2 separate regions of the Homo sapiens genome follow, and region 2 is linked to region 1. The links come from fine-mapping of genetic effects on gene expression. Tissue or cell type: whole blood. Region 1 holds a variant in brackets; the other region holds the start of a gene. All regions are shown on one strand. Distances are from middle to middle.

The links. PIP is the estimated chance that this variant, and not a neighbour inherited with it, causes the effect.
Region 2: it holds the start of OTUD3, and the variant in region 1 is fine-mapped to the expression of OTUD3 in whole blood (TOPMed, PIP above 0.99).

What each region holds. Positions count from the first base shown.
Region 1 is chr1:19,917,771-19,925,770 of GRCh38, reverse strand. It overlaps PLA2G2E (phospholipase A2 group IIE), which reads left to right and starts at 2,154. Exons shown (of 4, transcript NM_014589.3): 1 at 2,154-2,251; 2 at 3,016-3,154; 3 at 3,367-3,473; 4 at 5,322-5,762. The coding sequence starts at 2,212. The coding sequence ends at 5,464. RefSeq lists enhancers at 4,223-4,775, 4,776-5,328. The variant T/C (reference allele first, on the strand shown) is at 3,011.
Region 2 is chr1:19,878,867-19,886,866 of GRCh38, reverse strand. OTUD3 (OTU deubiquitinase 3) reads right to left here and starts at 4,472. Exons shown (of 8, transcript NM_015207.2): 1 at 4,133-4,472. The coding sequence starts at 4,353. The region is part of intron 1 of LOC105376823 (a long non-coding RNA gene); the gene reads left to right. RefSeq lists a silencer at 3,929-4,268 and an enhancer at 4,639-4,688.

The DNA.
Region 1 (8,000 bases):
ACAGTCTTTACTTTTCTGCTACAGGTGTAGACCTGCAGGGACTTGAAGGAGCCCTGTCCTAGCCAGGCCAGGATTCAAAATGGGTCACAAAAAGGATCGTCTCAGAAACCTGGCCCTTCCTGGGAAACACCCCTTATGCCACCACAGGAATGGCTGTGGGCCAAACCTACTAGGGAATCGACGCTAATTTTCAGTTGTTTAGAAGGTAACTCCTCAGTGATTCACTGTTTGGGCTCTCGTAACCCAGGCCAGGAGAGGCAGGGGCTGCCAGGAGATCAAAAGGAAATCGTGAACAAAGGTCTCTCTTTTCAGGAGACCATGACTCACAGCTGCTAGGTGATCCTGGGCAGGTGGACTCACCTCTCTGACCCCTTCTCCCCGCAAGTCTTCTCTGAAACAGGGTGAGAAGAGCCCAGCATGAAGAGAGTCCCAGGAGGAGTTATTAGCAGGAAATGAATGGGAGGGGCAGGGAGAAAAGGGTTTCCTGGGCTTTACTCTTATTTTATTTATTTATTTTTTTCTGAGACTGAGTCTCACTCTTGTTACCCAGGCTGGAGTAAAGTGGCGTGATCTCGGCTCACTGCAACCTGCTCCTCCCAGGTTCAAGCGATTCTCCTGCCTCAGCCTCCTGAGTAGCTGGGATTACAGGCGCATACCACCACACCTGGCTAATTTTTGTATTTTCAGTAGAGATGGGGTTTCACCATGTAAGCCAAGCTGGTCTCGAACTCCTGACCTCAAGTGATCCACCTGCCTTGGCCTCTTAAAGTGCTGTGATAACAGGTGTGAGCCACCGTGCCCGGCCGATAAAAGGTTTTTAACGTAAGAGTATGAACACTCAGCCCTCCTCTCCTTACTCCAAGGCGAAACCTCCCCGGGCCTCTATCCTCCGGCTGGTTGGGGTCAGGGAATTTGTGTCGGGATTCCTTCCAGCCTGTAGGGTGAGACCCAGACTCAGTGGGTTTAGTCTCCTCTCCTGGAACGGAGGCTGGCACCAGGCCCTAGACCAGCTCCTGAAGCCTGGAGCCCGCTGGTTAGGCCGAGGGCTGCAGTACACCGGTTGTCACGGGCCCTGGGCACATCAGCCTTTGTGGGCTCTTCCTCCATATATTAAATGTTATGACTGTCTTGGTTTGAAGACAAATATAATCCAGGTGGGATGGTACTGGTTTTTCTCCTACTTTTATAAGAAAGTAACACATTCTGTTGGGGTTAAAAGTAGTATGGCTGCTAGGCACCACCTCCACTTCGTGCTGGATGAGTTGGCCCAGGTGAAGCCCTTTATGTTGCCTGGGTTTAAATTCTAGCTCATCACTTATGCATGTGCCTCAGTTTCCCTCCTCTGTAAGATGGGGATGACTGCAGCACCCACGTGATGGGGCTGTGGTCCTGCTTGAAAGGGGCTTGGCACAGCGCCTGGTGCATAGCAAGTACTTGGTGAGGGCTGGCTGCCTGGTTGCGTGTGAGTTTTCCATCCTCCTGTGCGGGAGGCAAGAGGGACACCTTCTATCCTCATAATACAGGCAGGAAAACTGAGGTTCCAAGCAAGGGAAAGGACCTGCCCACGGCCGCCTAATACGCAGTGGAACCAGGACTCCAAGGCCACAGACCCAGCGACTCCCAGGCCCTGAACGGTGACGGAGGTGCAGGGTCAGTGATCCCAGTCACAGACCAGAGCAGGAGGGTCGGGGAGGGGAAGCGCCAGGCCAGGCCAGGGCCTCCTGCCTCCGGTTCTGCCCGGGTGGAAACTCTGAAACAGGACGGACTTGGCCCTGGGCACCTCCAGGCTGTGAGAACTGAGGTTTTTCAGTCTCTCTGAGTCTCAGTCAAGTGGAGATGAGGAAAAGATACCAAGAATGACAAGCACCTGGCACAGCCCGCGCCTCACAGCGTGGTCAATGGATGATTTTTTGGAAAGGGTGGGTGATGGGAAGGGTGTGAGTAGAAAGAGCCACGAGATTGCCCGCCATCCCCCACACTGCCTGGAAGCAGAGCCCACAGGCCCCAGCTGGCCCCTCCCCGGGGACTTGGCCAAAGTGTCAGACCTGGAAGAATCGTTGCATCACTGGGCACTCACGGGTTAATGACAGGGAGTGGACAGGACCTGGGTATTTAACTAATTAGGAGGCTCCCTGAGATCAGAGGTGGCCCTGCTGCTTTCTTCTGCTGCCTTTTATGCTCCTTGTGCACCTCCCTTCCCCCCAACCTGGGATGAAATCTCCCCACGTGCTGGTGTTCCTTTGCCTCCTGGGTAAGTGATCTTTGTGACCTTCAGCCTTCTGCCCCATCTGGCAACCCCAAGCTCCCTGGATGCCCCTGAGCCTGGCCCTACCGAGGGTGTGGTGGATGCCAAACACTGGAGGCTGCCCCCTTCCTGCCACCAGGGTGACCCTGAGGCCAGTTTTGCCTGAGCCAGCGGTGGCTGGAGCAGAGGGGAGGAGAATGCAGGCTGGGAGGGGTGAGGGGCATGGGCCAGGGGCTGGCGCTTCCCGGATGGCACACCCTAGGCTCCTTCTCCTATCCTAGCTTCCATGTTTGGCTCCAACCTGCCAAGGTGGGCAGGATTCAGTCCCATGGCTGAGTCAGGAGCACCGGGAAGAATTTGGGGAGGTCAGCTGAGGTGGTCAGGAGACAGGTCCAGTGCCATCTGATGAGACCTGGGGGGACAGAGTGTTCCTGGGTGAGATAAGGGCTGACACCTGGGGAGGACTGGTGGCTGGTGGGGAGCCCCTGGAAGGGGTGAATGAGTGACACTGTAGTAGATAGAAGAGTGGGAGGGGACACTGGGGGCGCTGACACACTGGAGGAGAGGACTAGGGGATGAAGGTGCAACGGATGTCACTGGCAATATTATTACTTATTACCACGGTTGTTGTTGAGAGTGGGTTGCTTTGGGGAGGTGAGCTTAACTGGACAACTGGAGAGATGCCTGTGATCAGATTTGAGGGGACATCAGGGGAAGTTGGCTGCAGAGGGTGGGGCCCTCCCTCTCCCTCTCCCTCTCCCTCTC[T/C]GCAGTGGCTCTGGTCACCGGGAACCTGGTTCAGTTTGGGGTGATGATCGAGAAGATGACAGGCAAGTCCGCCCTGCAGTACAACGACTATGGCTGTTACTGCGGCATCGGTGGCTCCCACTGGCCGGTGGACCAGACTGACTGGTGAGGAAGCAGCCTGCAGGGGGACCTCCATGGGGATGGAGGAGCTGGGGGATCCTGGGAGGATCCTGGGAGAAGGAGGGAAGCCTGGGGGCACCTGGAAAATTCAGGCTGATCTCTCCTCTGGGCTGCTTTGGGCTCGGGGGCCCCGAGCAGCCCCTGGTCCAGCCCAGCCTGGCTCACAGGTCCCTCCAGGTCAACCATGACCCTTACAGGTGCTGCCACGCCCACGACTGCTGCTACGGGCGTCTGGAGAAGCTGGGCTGTGAGCCCAAACTGGAAAAGTATCTTTTCTCTGTCAGCGAACGTGGCATTTTCTGCGGTAGGTGGAGAGCCCTGAAGTGACCTAGACACCCTGCGGTGAGGTGGGTGGAGGCAGCTTAAGACAGGAAGCCCCTCCTGATGGTGACCTTGGGCCTTATCAGAGCCAGACCCTGGGCTGGAGGCATGGGGTTTCCCGTTACCACGTAACAGTGGAGACCCAGATGTTCACCAGGCACCCAGGCCAGAGAAGCCCGTACCCCATCAGTGCAGCCCTCAGCCCCAGGTATCTCCCTACCCACAGACACCTCCCAGCTCCAGCCTCTGGAAAGAGGAGCAGAGGGGTCTGAGCTGAGCCAGGGCCCAGAGGAGCTGGACTCAGGCACCCTCCCAAGGCCTCAACAGGAGCTAAAGGTGAAGTCCTTCGGACAGAACGAGCTGGGGCTTTGACTGGGGACAGCAGATGCTGTTTCCAAAGGCTGACTCCTCAATGGGACTGTCAGGCTGGACCCATTTGCTCAGCTGTGCCATGTCCAGTGCCCATTTGGACCAATTAGCTTTCCTTCAGTCCCAGGCCCAGGCAAGCAGCCTCAACCAAGTGAGACTGTCGAGGGACCCCACATGAGAGAGCCAAGCTCTCTCCCTGCCACAAAGCCAGGAGCAGCCTGAAAGAAGGGCAGGGCCTGGTGGGCGGATGCTGCAGCGCGGAAGGATTCGGGAGGTCGCGGCAGACTCAGGTCTCTAAATTCTGTCCTGGCGGCGGGGCAGAGCTGGCTCCATTTCCTCTGCCGCCAACCACTCGGCAGGGCAATGTGCCAGGTACTGAGTCTCTGTCGCTGGGAGTCCATGCAAGGCAGAAGCAGCCACCTGCCAGGATCAGGGCTGAGGGGAGGAGGCAGGTGGGTGGAGACACAAGCTCTGGATTCTACCCAGGGCGTCACCTTCCACCTGCCTGTGACTTTGGACAAGTGATGTAATCCCTGGAAAGCCTCTGTTTCCTCACCTAGAAAACGGAGAGGCTTATACCCACTTCCCCAGCTCAGCCCAGCTCCTGGAAAAAGCCCCCCAAAAGAGGCTGACCGGCTCGGCGTTAAGAGTCCCTTCCAACCCTGGGTGTTGCTGACATAGCGGGCGTGGGCAGAGCCCTGACGGGAGACGAAGGCTCAACTTCAAGAGGGGAAATGAGGCACCTGGCCTGAGCTGTGAGATACAGTCATGGGGACAAAAGGGAGCCAGGGCCACTGCAGGCAGAGGTGACAGAGGCAGCTGCAGTGGAGACAGGAGGAGCCTTCTGGGCCCCTACAGAGCTGATGCCAGCTGGCTCTAGGAAGGACAGGTCAGGGTAGAAGTCTGACTCCCAGGCTGGGTATGGGCAGAAAACTGGGCTCTGTCCACTCTGATGAGGACAGGCAGAGGGCCCTGAGCAGCCTCCAGCTTTGGTCCCAGTGGCTTCCAGCCTAGGCCCACGCCACTCTGGGGCACACATAGCCATCAGATTGAGTTGCTGTCATTTCGTAGCTGTCCTCTCTGCTTGATGGCCACAATCCGCCATCAGCAACGCATCACACAGGGGTGCAGGGGTTGCCTAGAAATCCCCCTGGTCGGGGGCAGTGAGAGTTAGGGAACCACGTGGTGTCCCTAAGGCCGGAGAGAGCTAAGGGCAGTCAGCGTGGGCTTGGGAGAGCAGGGAGGGACAGCGAGGGCAAGCTTCCAGCTTCCCTGGTGTCCTGAGCCACAGTGCGCCCCGCCCTTGTCTCTTGTCTCACCCATCCGTGAAACAACCCGGGAGCTTGGGCTTCCATCAGAATGGAGTTGGTCCAGGTCAAGAACGTGGACCCAGAAGCAGCCAAGAGCTGTCCCACACATATCCTGAGCTTCTGTGGTCCCTGACTCACTTTGTCCCATCCAGCCGGCAGGACCACCTGCCAGCGGCTGACCTGCGAGTGTGACAAGAGGGCTGCCCTCTGCTTTCGCCGCAACCTGGGCACCTACAACCGCAAATATGCCCATTATCCCAACAAGCTGTGCACCGGGCCCACCCCGCCCTGCTGAGGCTATGCTCGGCCTCCCCCCCGTCCCTGGAGGTCCCGCCTCGGGCTGCTGTAGTCCCAGGCCTGGGGAACATTGGCACCAAAGGCCCTCCCTTTGGAAAATTCCTTTCCTGCAAACTCATCCCTCCTTGAGAGCTCAGAGATATGTCCTGGACCATCACTAGCCTCCCAGGCTACCCCTTCTCTGTAGAAAGAACCCTGCCCCAGGAGCCATGGACCCTTCAGCACCCAGAAGACTGTCACTAGCTTCTGGGATCTCAGCTCCCTCTTCTGAATAAGTGAATAATGTTTTCCCATAATTCTAATGTTCTTTGAGTCTCAAATTCTGTCAATCATTCTAGGATTTAATTCACTAGAGTTTCATTCATACATTAATTTTCTGATCACCTACCTTGTGCTGACAGCATGCACTGGAATCAGTGGGAACAAGTCTGACATGGGTGGCCCTGCCTGCAATTCCAGCATTAAATTCTTTTAATTTTCCATGACAGTAAGTTTCTGTGGCTCTCTTTTTCTTTTTCTTTTTCTATTTTTTTTTTTTTTTTTTTTTTTTGAGACAGAGTCTCGCTCTGTCGCCCAGGCTGGAGTGCAGTGTCGCGATCTCGGCTCACTGTAAGCTCCGCCTCCCGGGTTCACGCCATTCTCCTGCCTCGGCCTCCCGAGTAGCTGGGACTACAGGCGCCCGACACCACACCCGGCTAATTTTTTTATATTTTTAGTAGAGACGGGGTTTAACCGTGTTAGCCAGGATGGTCTCGATCTCCTGACCTCGTGGTCTGCCCGCCTCGGCCTCCCAAGGTGCTGGGATTACAGGCGTGAGCCACCGTGCCCGGCCCTGTGACTCTCTTTTTCTAACATTCTACAATCTTATCAAAGATAATGCAATCTCTGGAAGGAATATTTCTGGCCATATGGCTTAATGTGAAAAGCACGAAAAATACCAACCTAAAAATATTGTCCCCACTGTGTCATCAGGCCTCAAATCCCCAACACTGGCAAAGATTGGTTAAGAGTGAGAAGCAGCTCTAGATGGTCTTATCCACACCCCTTCTTTGATGGGCCCCTGGGGGCCAGAGAGGGGATGTTCTACCCGAGGGGGTGTCCCCACTCCCTGGCCCTTCATTTCTTCATGAAGTTGTCATCAGCCACCCACGCTCTGGTATGGCCACGTTAACCAGGCCTGCTGGTTGTAATCTTGGAAAGACCAGAGTGCCCAGGGCCGTTCAGCTGTGAGGACACAGGAAGAGGAGGAGGAAAGGGTTCAGCATCCAGGGCTGACTCCAACCTCCCGATTCTGAAGCCATGAAGAATGTAATGCACTCAAGGATTCCCACCAGGAGGAATGCAGCCTATTCTGGAAGCAATCTATTTCAGCAGATGTTACTTCTAAAGATAGAATTATCTATTATATGCTGATGAAATCTTACAGGACTGGGATTCGCCTGCTCAATGACAGAGCACCTGCCAATGCATTGCACAGGGCAAAGCTCACAGTTGGACACTCAACAAATGACCACTCCCTTCACCCTTCTCAGGGCCTGTGCACAGCATTCAGGACCTTGAGGGCAGGGAGGAGAGCAAAAAAAAATCAAAGGAAGAGCCAGTCATGGTGGCTCACACCTGTAATCCCAGCACTTTGGGAGGCCAAGGCGGGCAGATCACCTGAGGTCGGGAGTTCGAGACCAGCCTGACCAACATGGAGACACCCAGTCTTTACTAAAAATACAAAATTAGCCGGGCATGGTGGTGCAGGCCTGTAATCTCACCTACTCAGGAGGCTGAAGCAGGAGAATCGTTGAACCTAGGAGATGGAGGTTGCGGTGAGCCAAGATCATGCCATTGCACTCCACCCTGGGCAACAAGAGTAGAAACTCCATCTCAAAAAAAAAAAAAAAAAAATCAAAGGGATGTATCGCTGTGACCTTTAAAAGGTGAAGAAGCTCTGTGCTAGCAAAAGGAAGGAGGAGAAGAAAGGGAGGACAGGCGTGTGTACTTTGCTGTTGTAACTGACTCAAATCCTCAGCCAAGTATCACCAGAAGACCATGTCTTAAAGCAAAAACGGCCTGTGTGGGGGAAGAATGCAAACCTCCTTTGCAGGAAAAGTGGTCCTGAGGCGCCCTCTGGTGTCCATTTCATTCAGGCCACTAGGGAGAAACCTGCGCTTGGCTTAAACCTCGATTTCTCTTCCTCAGGTGGGCAAAGTGTGCTTCTGGGCTAGTGAAATTGGTCCCCTCACATTTTCATAAATAAATATACTGAGAAAATGCCAAAGAAGGCCATACAACCATCTGAGGATGATGGCCACTGCAGAAACAGAAAACACAGGGAGAAGGAGCTGATGGGGCAGATTAGAGAGAGGTGACACCTGGGCATGATGGATTTAAGGTACCAATGGGACACCTACCTGATGATCTTAACAGTTGTATAACTGTCCGACGAAACAAACATTGAAACTTAGGAGCAAGATTCCAGCGCAGCCTGCTGTGACCCCTGCTACTCACCCACCCCCACCCACCAAAACCAAGCTGTCTTTTGG
Region 2 (8,000 bases), 39 kb after region 1:
GTTCCCGGACTAGGAGCATCAGCATCCCCTGGGCAGTTGTTAGAAATGAAAATGCTGGGGCCCACCCAGGCCTACTCAATCAGGCATTCTGGGGTTGGGGCCCAGCAACGTAGCCCTTCCAGGTGTTTTCACTAGCAGTCCAGGTGGTTATGTTGCATACTGAAGTTTGAGAAACACTAGTTGAGCATCTAGACTCTAAATCAGTCACTCTCAATTATGGATGCATATAAGAATCATCTGTAAATTTTTTTTTAAAAAACATCAATAACCAGGCCCCACTCTAAGATTCTGATGTAGTTGATCTAGGGGAGAGCCCAGGCCCTGAATTGTTTCAAAAGTTCCTCCCCAGATATTCTAGTATGGCACCCAACTGAAAACCACTGAGTGAGGCACAAAAGATGGCACTGCTGTTCAGGTGACACAGGCAATAATTAGACAAGATGATGTGTGAATGCCCTTCTACTACTGTGATCCTGCAATATTAAAAACAAAACTAAAAAATAAACTACTTGTTAGTAATAAGATAAACAGCTAAAATTAGTGATTCTTCAATGTTTCAATTTTAGAACACTGCTAATGAGTAATGTAACTCAGAACTACATTTAGTAAGACCCAACTAGATAAGTTCAGAGGGATGTTAATATTGTACTGCCTAATAAATAGAGTTATACATTCTTTTCACACTATAGCCAATCATGTTTTTAAGGAAAACATCAAGGTTAAACTATTTCTTTCTTGCTTTGAAAAATGAATCCAATTTATGTGGGTCCACCTTCCAGACAACACGTGAAATATGAAGCTGGTCCAGGAAGCATTACAAAACCCTCTAAGTAGCTCCCTGATTAATCTACACTAAGCTGACTCAACCCATGTAAAGGCTGTATTACAGGATATTGGTTAATTCATCCCTAAACCCCCTCAGGTTCCAGAATGCTACAGGTACCATATTGCCAACAATGAACATGCTCATAGATACTGTATCAGGCTACTCCAGATTGTAATCAAATCTGAATGAAAACAGGGAACGCTAGAGATGTCAACTATTTTTTAATAGTCTTTAACTTCATTATATTTCACCTGAGTCCTTAATAAACATTAATAAAAGAATCCGTTGTCCAGGCGCGGTGGCTCACACCTGTAATTCCACCACTTTGGGAGGCCAAGGCGGATGGATCATGAGGTCAGGAGTTCGAGACCAGCCTGGCCAACATGGTGAAACCCCATCTCTACTAAAAATACAAACAAATTAGCTGGCTGTGGTAGCAGGTGCCTGTAATCCCAGCTACTCAGGAGGCTGAGGCAAGAGAATTGTTTGAACCCAGGAGGCAGAGATTGCAGTGAGCCAAGATTGTGCCACTGCACTCCAGCCTGGGTGGCAGAGTAAGACTCCGTCTGAGGGGGGTAGAAGAATCTGTTGACACCTGCCAACCCATCACATACACAGGAAACACCATCCCCTGCAGTGATAAAGTCTGTCATCACCACATTCGAAAGGACTAGGATACTGACGAGGGCTGAACCACAGTCCAGCTAATGGAACTCATGTGAAGAACTTGTGAACAGAAGGTGGTTAGCTCCATGAAGCCCACACAAGAGGAAATACGATCATTTTATCTAACACTGTCCGAATAACAGGAACCTTGGAAGAGAGACATGAGCACTCCAGTCAAGCTGGTTTCTGGAGCCTAGCTTCACTGCCCGTTACTTCTACCCTTGTGCCCTACACTACCCGTCACCCTAAACAACCTGTAGATCTCCCAAAAACATCGTGTCCTTGTGCCTCTATATATACTCCTTCTCAGATGGGACCGTTCTCTTGGTGTACTCCTATTGGTCCTTCATGACCCAATCAGAGCATGACACCCTCTGAGAGGCATCTAGCAGTGTATCCAATGAGTATTTACCGAATGAACGAGAAGGACTTCCTGGCCAATTCATAGAGTAGTAGCCTTTTCCTTCTCAATAGTACCATTATAATCAGTCACTGTTACTAAAAATATATCAAACTATATTTTAATTATTTGTATCATCTGTTCTCAAAGTGTGACTCAAGGGACCGGAGATGTGGGAAGGTCTCTGATATGCTTTCAGGGTATCCGTGAGTTCAAAACTAAGATGTAATGTACCTTTTTCATTCTCATTCTCTCACAAGTGCAGTGGAGTTTTCCAGAGGCTACCTGATGCATGAAGTCATCACTCTGATAGCTAATGGAATGTGTGTGTATTCTTGTGTTTTAACTTTGTTTTACTTTCTAATACAGTAAATACTCATAGCTATAACCCATATAAAGTTCTTTCGGTTTCTCAGTAATTTTTAAGAATGCCAAGAGATCTTAAGACCAAAAAAGCTGAGACCCACTGTTACGTGTTTCTACCTTAGGCTATGAAGTCCTTAAGTATCTTAGTCATCAACATATTCCCAGCACCCTACTTAAGGTGTGCTGAATTAACTTGAAAAGTATGCTGTGTGTGTATGGGGGTGTGGGGATAGGGAGCAGAAGTAGTACCCCCAAAGTTTCCCATAACCTTATGAAAGCCCCCTCAAGAGTTTACAACTCCCTGTGCTAATTCCTCCTCATAAGTAACCTTCTATTGAGTACTTCAGTTTCCTGGGCACCCTGACATTGAGAATACCATACCCAGTATAGCAGACACAAGCAATCCAATCATTTGCAAGGAAAAGCCCCAATGTCCCACGCCAATTCCACTGTATTCAATTGGTATTTCTGTTTCTATAAGGGTGTCTTGGGCTTATGCTTAGGCTAGCTGACCTCCCTCTATTATTTTTATATTTCATTCAGCAAAAACGTACTGACTGCCTTCCATGTACCAAGCACTTTGCCAGATGATGGTGAATAAATGTAATCAAGTTCCAACTGCATCTTAAGCAAAAACAGCAACGCAGCAAAGTGTGGTGAACTCTTTGTGAGCAAAAAGAAATCCAATCTGCCTGAAGCAATGAGCATAAACAGGAACGGTGGGAAAGGGAAATTAGGACCAGTTCACAGTCTTAATCAATAAGCTGCAATGTAATGTGAAAATTTTTAAAACACCTTATTCTGCAGTTAATATCTAAGGCAATTCCTGGCCGGGGGTGGTAGCTCATGCCTGTAATCTAGGCACTTTGGGAGGCCGAGGCAGGAGGATCGCTTGAAGCCAGGAGTTCGAGACCAGCCTGGGCAACACAGCAAAATCACCGTCTCTACAAAATAACAATAATAATGAACTAAGGCAATTCCTTATGGTCTTTAATTTCATTTTAGTCTTCCCTCTGCAGGATCTGAGCACTCAAATACGGGGAGGAAAAAAACAAAAGCCAGGCTGTTATTAACACTCTCTCTTCCAAAGTGACACAGCTGACAACCAGACCCCTTTTTACCTGCCCCTGCAATGGGGATCCTAACTGTTCTCCCCTCTTCCTGACCCTTTTCCTTCTTCCATCCATGTTCCTGGAGCCATATCCCCTTTCTTGAAGCTAATTTTCTTCCTCCTCCCCACTCTCCCCCTCCGCGTTCCCTAAAGAAAGCTGGACCTGGATCCAGTCTAAGTCCCAAGAAAGCTTGGGGAAGCACCTTTGCTTACAGAGAAACTGAGGCCCATGGAAGGAAGAATTAGAGAAGCTGCCTTCAGCTCAGTAAACAGGCGACCTAATTTCACAAATGTAAATGGGGGCACCACCCAAAAACCAAGGACTCAAAGGAGGCAAAGCGTTCTACCAAGTGGGGCTTACTCAAACTCCTTCAACTGGTCTTATCGTCATGATAACTGTTTTTCCAATGCCTGGCTCCATCTCATTCCTTCAGAACTCAGCTTAAATGTCACCTTTGAGAGAGCCCTTCCTGGCCACAATCCAGTGGCCCTGCTCCCATATACGGTCTCAGCACCCACTTTCTATTTCGCTCGCGGCGTCTGCCATGATTAGGACCCTTTGGGATCCCCGCGAGCGTCTCGGGGCGAGGGGCTTGTCCGCCTCACTCGCAGCTGGACGCCCTGCACTCGGAGCGTGGCTGGCTCGCGGGAGGCGCCCGGGCCGCCCGAATGAATGGATGGATGGACGCGAGCGGGCAACGGTCGCCAGGCCGAGCCCGGCGCGTCCCCCGGCGCCGCCTCCCTCGCTCCCGGCCCGCCTCACCCGTCCCCCGGCACCTCCCGCAGCTTCAGCCCCAGGGCCTGCAGCTGGTTGGCGAAGCTGACGAACTCCTCCTCGCAGCCGCCGCCGCCGCCAGACTCCGGCCGATTCCGCCGCTCCTTGGCCAGGGCCCGGCGCGCCGCCCGCTCGTCCCGCTTGCGCTCGGCCTCGGCTTTCCGGCTGCCGCTGCCCGGCCGGCTCTTCGCCGCCTGCTTTCGGGACATGGCCTTAGCCTGCAGTCCCCAGCGGCAGGAGGGAAAGGCGCAGGACCCCCCAGCGTCCGCCTCAAGCGTTGGGAAGGTAAAACAGCGCGGGCAACGGAGCCCGGCGACGACTACGCAGCAACCGCGCCTGCGCCGGCGCCCAGCACCCCGGTCACATGATGGAATCCCCGCCTCTTTTGCGGGGCTCGGCGAGCAGACGCCATAGAGAGCTGGAGGGGCACCCATCTTGGTTTGTTCTATTCCGCCCTCTAGTGGTGGATGGTACTCAACGTGAGTGGCAGGAGCGACCGGAGAGGGACCAGAGAGAACAAAGCAGGAACAAGTCAAGCAGAGAAATTAAAGATGATAGAAGAGTGGAACACAGAGCAGCGGCAAAAGTTAGGACCGGAGATGAATAAAAACGATTTAAACTCTTGCTGCGAGCCTACTACAGTTGGATAGGCACTTTCACACGGCTCATTCTTGTTTAATTATCCCCAAATTACAGGAAACTGAATCTGAGTGGTTAAATAATTTCAAGATCACACAGCTAAAAGGCAGAGCTTTGCCCTGGCTCCAAAGCCCGCATACTTGTTTATTTAATCCTGCCCTTCATCTCTCCGCCTTCCTTCGTAACTCAAGGGAGAGGTCGCCCTTCTGTCCAAGACCACTGGAAATCCTAATTCCATCCTAGAGCGACCCACCTAGGTTTGCCTGGACTAGAGGTTTTCTTGGGATGCAGGACTTTCCGTTTTAAAACTGAGACAGACCAGGCTGGGCGTGATGGCTCACACCTGTAATCCCAGCACTTTGGGAGGCCGAGGCGGGCTGACCACAAAGTCAGGAGATGGAGACCATCCTGGCTAACACTGTGAAACCCCGTCTCTACTAAAAATACAAAAATTAGCCGGGCGTGGTGGCGGGCGCCTGTAGTCCCAGCTACTCGGGAGGCTGAGGCAGGAGAATGGCATGAACCCGGGAAGCGGAGCTTGCAGTGAGCCGAGATTGCACCACTGCACTCCAGCCTGGGGGACAGAGCGAGACTCCATCTCAAAAAACAAACAAACAAAAAAACAAAAACAAAAACTGAGGCCAGGTGCAGTGGCCCACGCCTGTAATCCCAACACTTTGGGAAGCCGAGGCCAGGGGATCGCCTGAGGTCAGGAGTTCGAGACCAGCCTGGCCAGCTGGCCAAGATGGTGAAACCCCATCTATATTGCGTGAGGCTGAGGTTTGGAGTACAAATGAATCTGTCACCCAGGTAGTGAGCAAAGTACACAATACACAATAGGTAGTTTTTCAACCCTTTCCCCCAACTGCCTCCCGACTCTTGTATTCCCCAGAGTCTATTGTTCCCATCTTTGTGTCCATGTGTATCCAATGTTTAGCTCCCACTTATAAGAACGTGCAGTATTTGGTTTTCTGTTTCTGCCTTAGTTCACTTAGGATAATGGTTTCCAGCTGTATCCATGTTGCTGTTCTCCCCTCTTCCTGGACATGATTTTGTTCTTTTTTATGGCTGCATAGTATTCCATGGTGTATATATACCACATTTTCTTTATCTAATCCACTGTTGATGCGTACCTGGGTTGATTCTATGTCTTTGCTATTGTGAATAGTGCTGCAGTGAACATACGGGTGCATCTGTCTTTTTGATAGAACGATATATATTCCTTTGAGTATAGACCCAGTAATGAGATTGCTGGGTCGAGTGGTAGTTCAATTTTTAGTTCTTTGAGAAATCTCCAAACTGCTCTCCACAGTGGCTGAACTAATTTACATTCCCACCAACAGTGTAAAAATGTTCCCCTTTTCCCCACAGCCTCAGCAACATCTGCTATTTTTTCTTTTTAACAAAAGCCATTCTAACTGGCATGAGATGGTATTTCATCGTGATTTTGATTTGCATTTTTCTGATGACAATAAGAATGCAAAAGAGAGTTGTAAAGATTAAATAAAAATGTAAAGCCCCAGGCATGAAGTAAGTACCTATTTAATGAAGTTGTTTGAATCAGTTCTCTGGAAATCTCATGAGCTCAGGGGCAAAGACTTTCAAACTTTAGAAACCAGGGAAGAAAGGTTTCTCACCAGCAAATAAGTAAATACAGACTGCTAACATATTGATAGAAAAGCGAACACTTGCCCGTCTTGTAAAAATCTTTTTGGCTGGGCGTGTGGCTCACGCTTGTAATCCCAACACTTTGGGAGGTGGAGGCGGGCGGATCACCTGAGGTGAGGAGTTCGAGGCCAGCCTGTAATCCCAGCTACTGGGGAGGCTGAGGCAGGAGAATCGCTTGAACCCGGGAGGCAAAGGTTGCAGTGAGCCGAGATTGCGCCATTGCACTCCAGTCTGGGCAACAAGAGTGAAACTCCTTCTCAAAACAAAAACAAAAACACAAACAAAAAATCTTTTCTGGCATAAGCCCTTAGCCTTTAGCCCACACACAGATTTTGAATGGGCGAATTTCTCTTCTCAGCGGAGACCTGTGTTAGACAGTGTCTCTAAGTGCAAATCAATGCTGCCTATAAATTATATTTAAAGGCCAAAGGGAAGGAGTATAGTACTTGTAAATAAAATGAATGCTCTGCCCACTTCGCTAGAGTTAATTAAAAGAATCATTGACCCGCACAGTGGCTCATGCCTGTAATCCCAGGACTTTGGGAGGCCAAAGTGGGGGTATTGCTTGAGCCCAGGAGTTCAAGATCTGCCTGGGCAACAAAGTGAGATTCCCCATCTCTGCAAAAAAATTTTAATTAGCTGGGCATGGTGATGCATGCCTGTAGTCCCAGCTATTCGGGAGGGGCTGAAGTTGGAGGATCACTTGAACCTGGGAGTTTGAGGCTGCAGTGAGGTATGACTGTGCCACTGCACTCCAGCCTAGGTGACAGAGCAAGACCCTGTCTCAAAAATAATAATAATAGTAATCAAACCTCATTGGATGGCAGTATAAATTAGTAAAAAGTGTGACTAACAGAATTTTAGTGAAGAAATGCAGCTTTAGGACTTTCAAGAACATACCATCAAGGGTATGGGAAAATGAGAACTCTCGCACACTGCTGTTGGGAGGTAAATTTATCTAGCCACTTTGGAGGGCAATTTGGACTGTATCTGGTAACTTTGGGGTTTTTTTTGTTTTTTTGTTTGTTTGTTTGTTTTGAGATGGAGTCTTGTTCTGTTGCCCAGGCTGGAGTGCCGTGGTATGATCTCGGCTTACTGCAACCTCTGCCTCCCGGGCTGAAGAGATTGTCAGAGATTCTCCTGCTTCAGCCTCCAGAGCAGCTGGGAATACAGGCACACACCACCATGCCCAGCTAATTTTTTTTTTTTTTTTTTTGTATTTTTAGTAGAGGCGAGGTTTCACCATGTTGGCCAGTCTGGTCTCGAACTCCTGATCTCAGGTGATCCGCGTGCCTCAGCCTCTTACTGTGCTGGGATTAGAGGCATGAACCACTGCACCTGGCCTGTATCTGGTAACATTTTAAATGTCTAGTGTCTACATCTCGTGATCTATCCTAAAAATAGAAATATTACATCTCCTCCTAAACTCCTCGTGTGTATCCGTATTCTAAATTTTCCTCGTGCAAGACGATGAACCCCAGGGTATATACTCCGGACAATGTAGCTCCTTCAAAAGTACACTCTCAGACGCAGATAGTCCTAAAGCAAA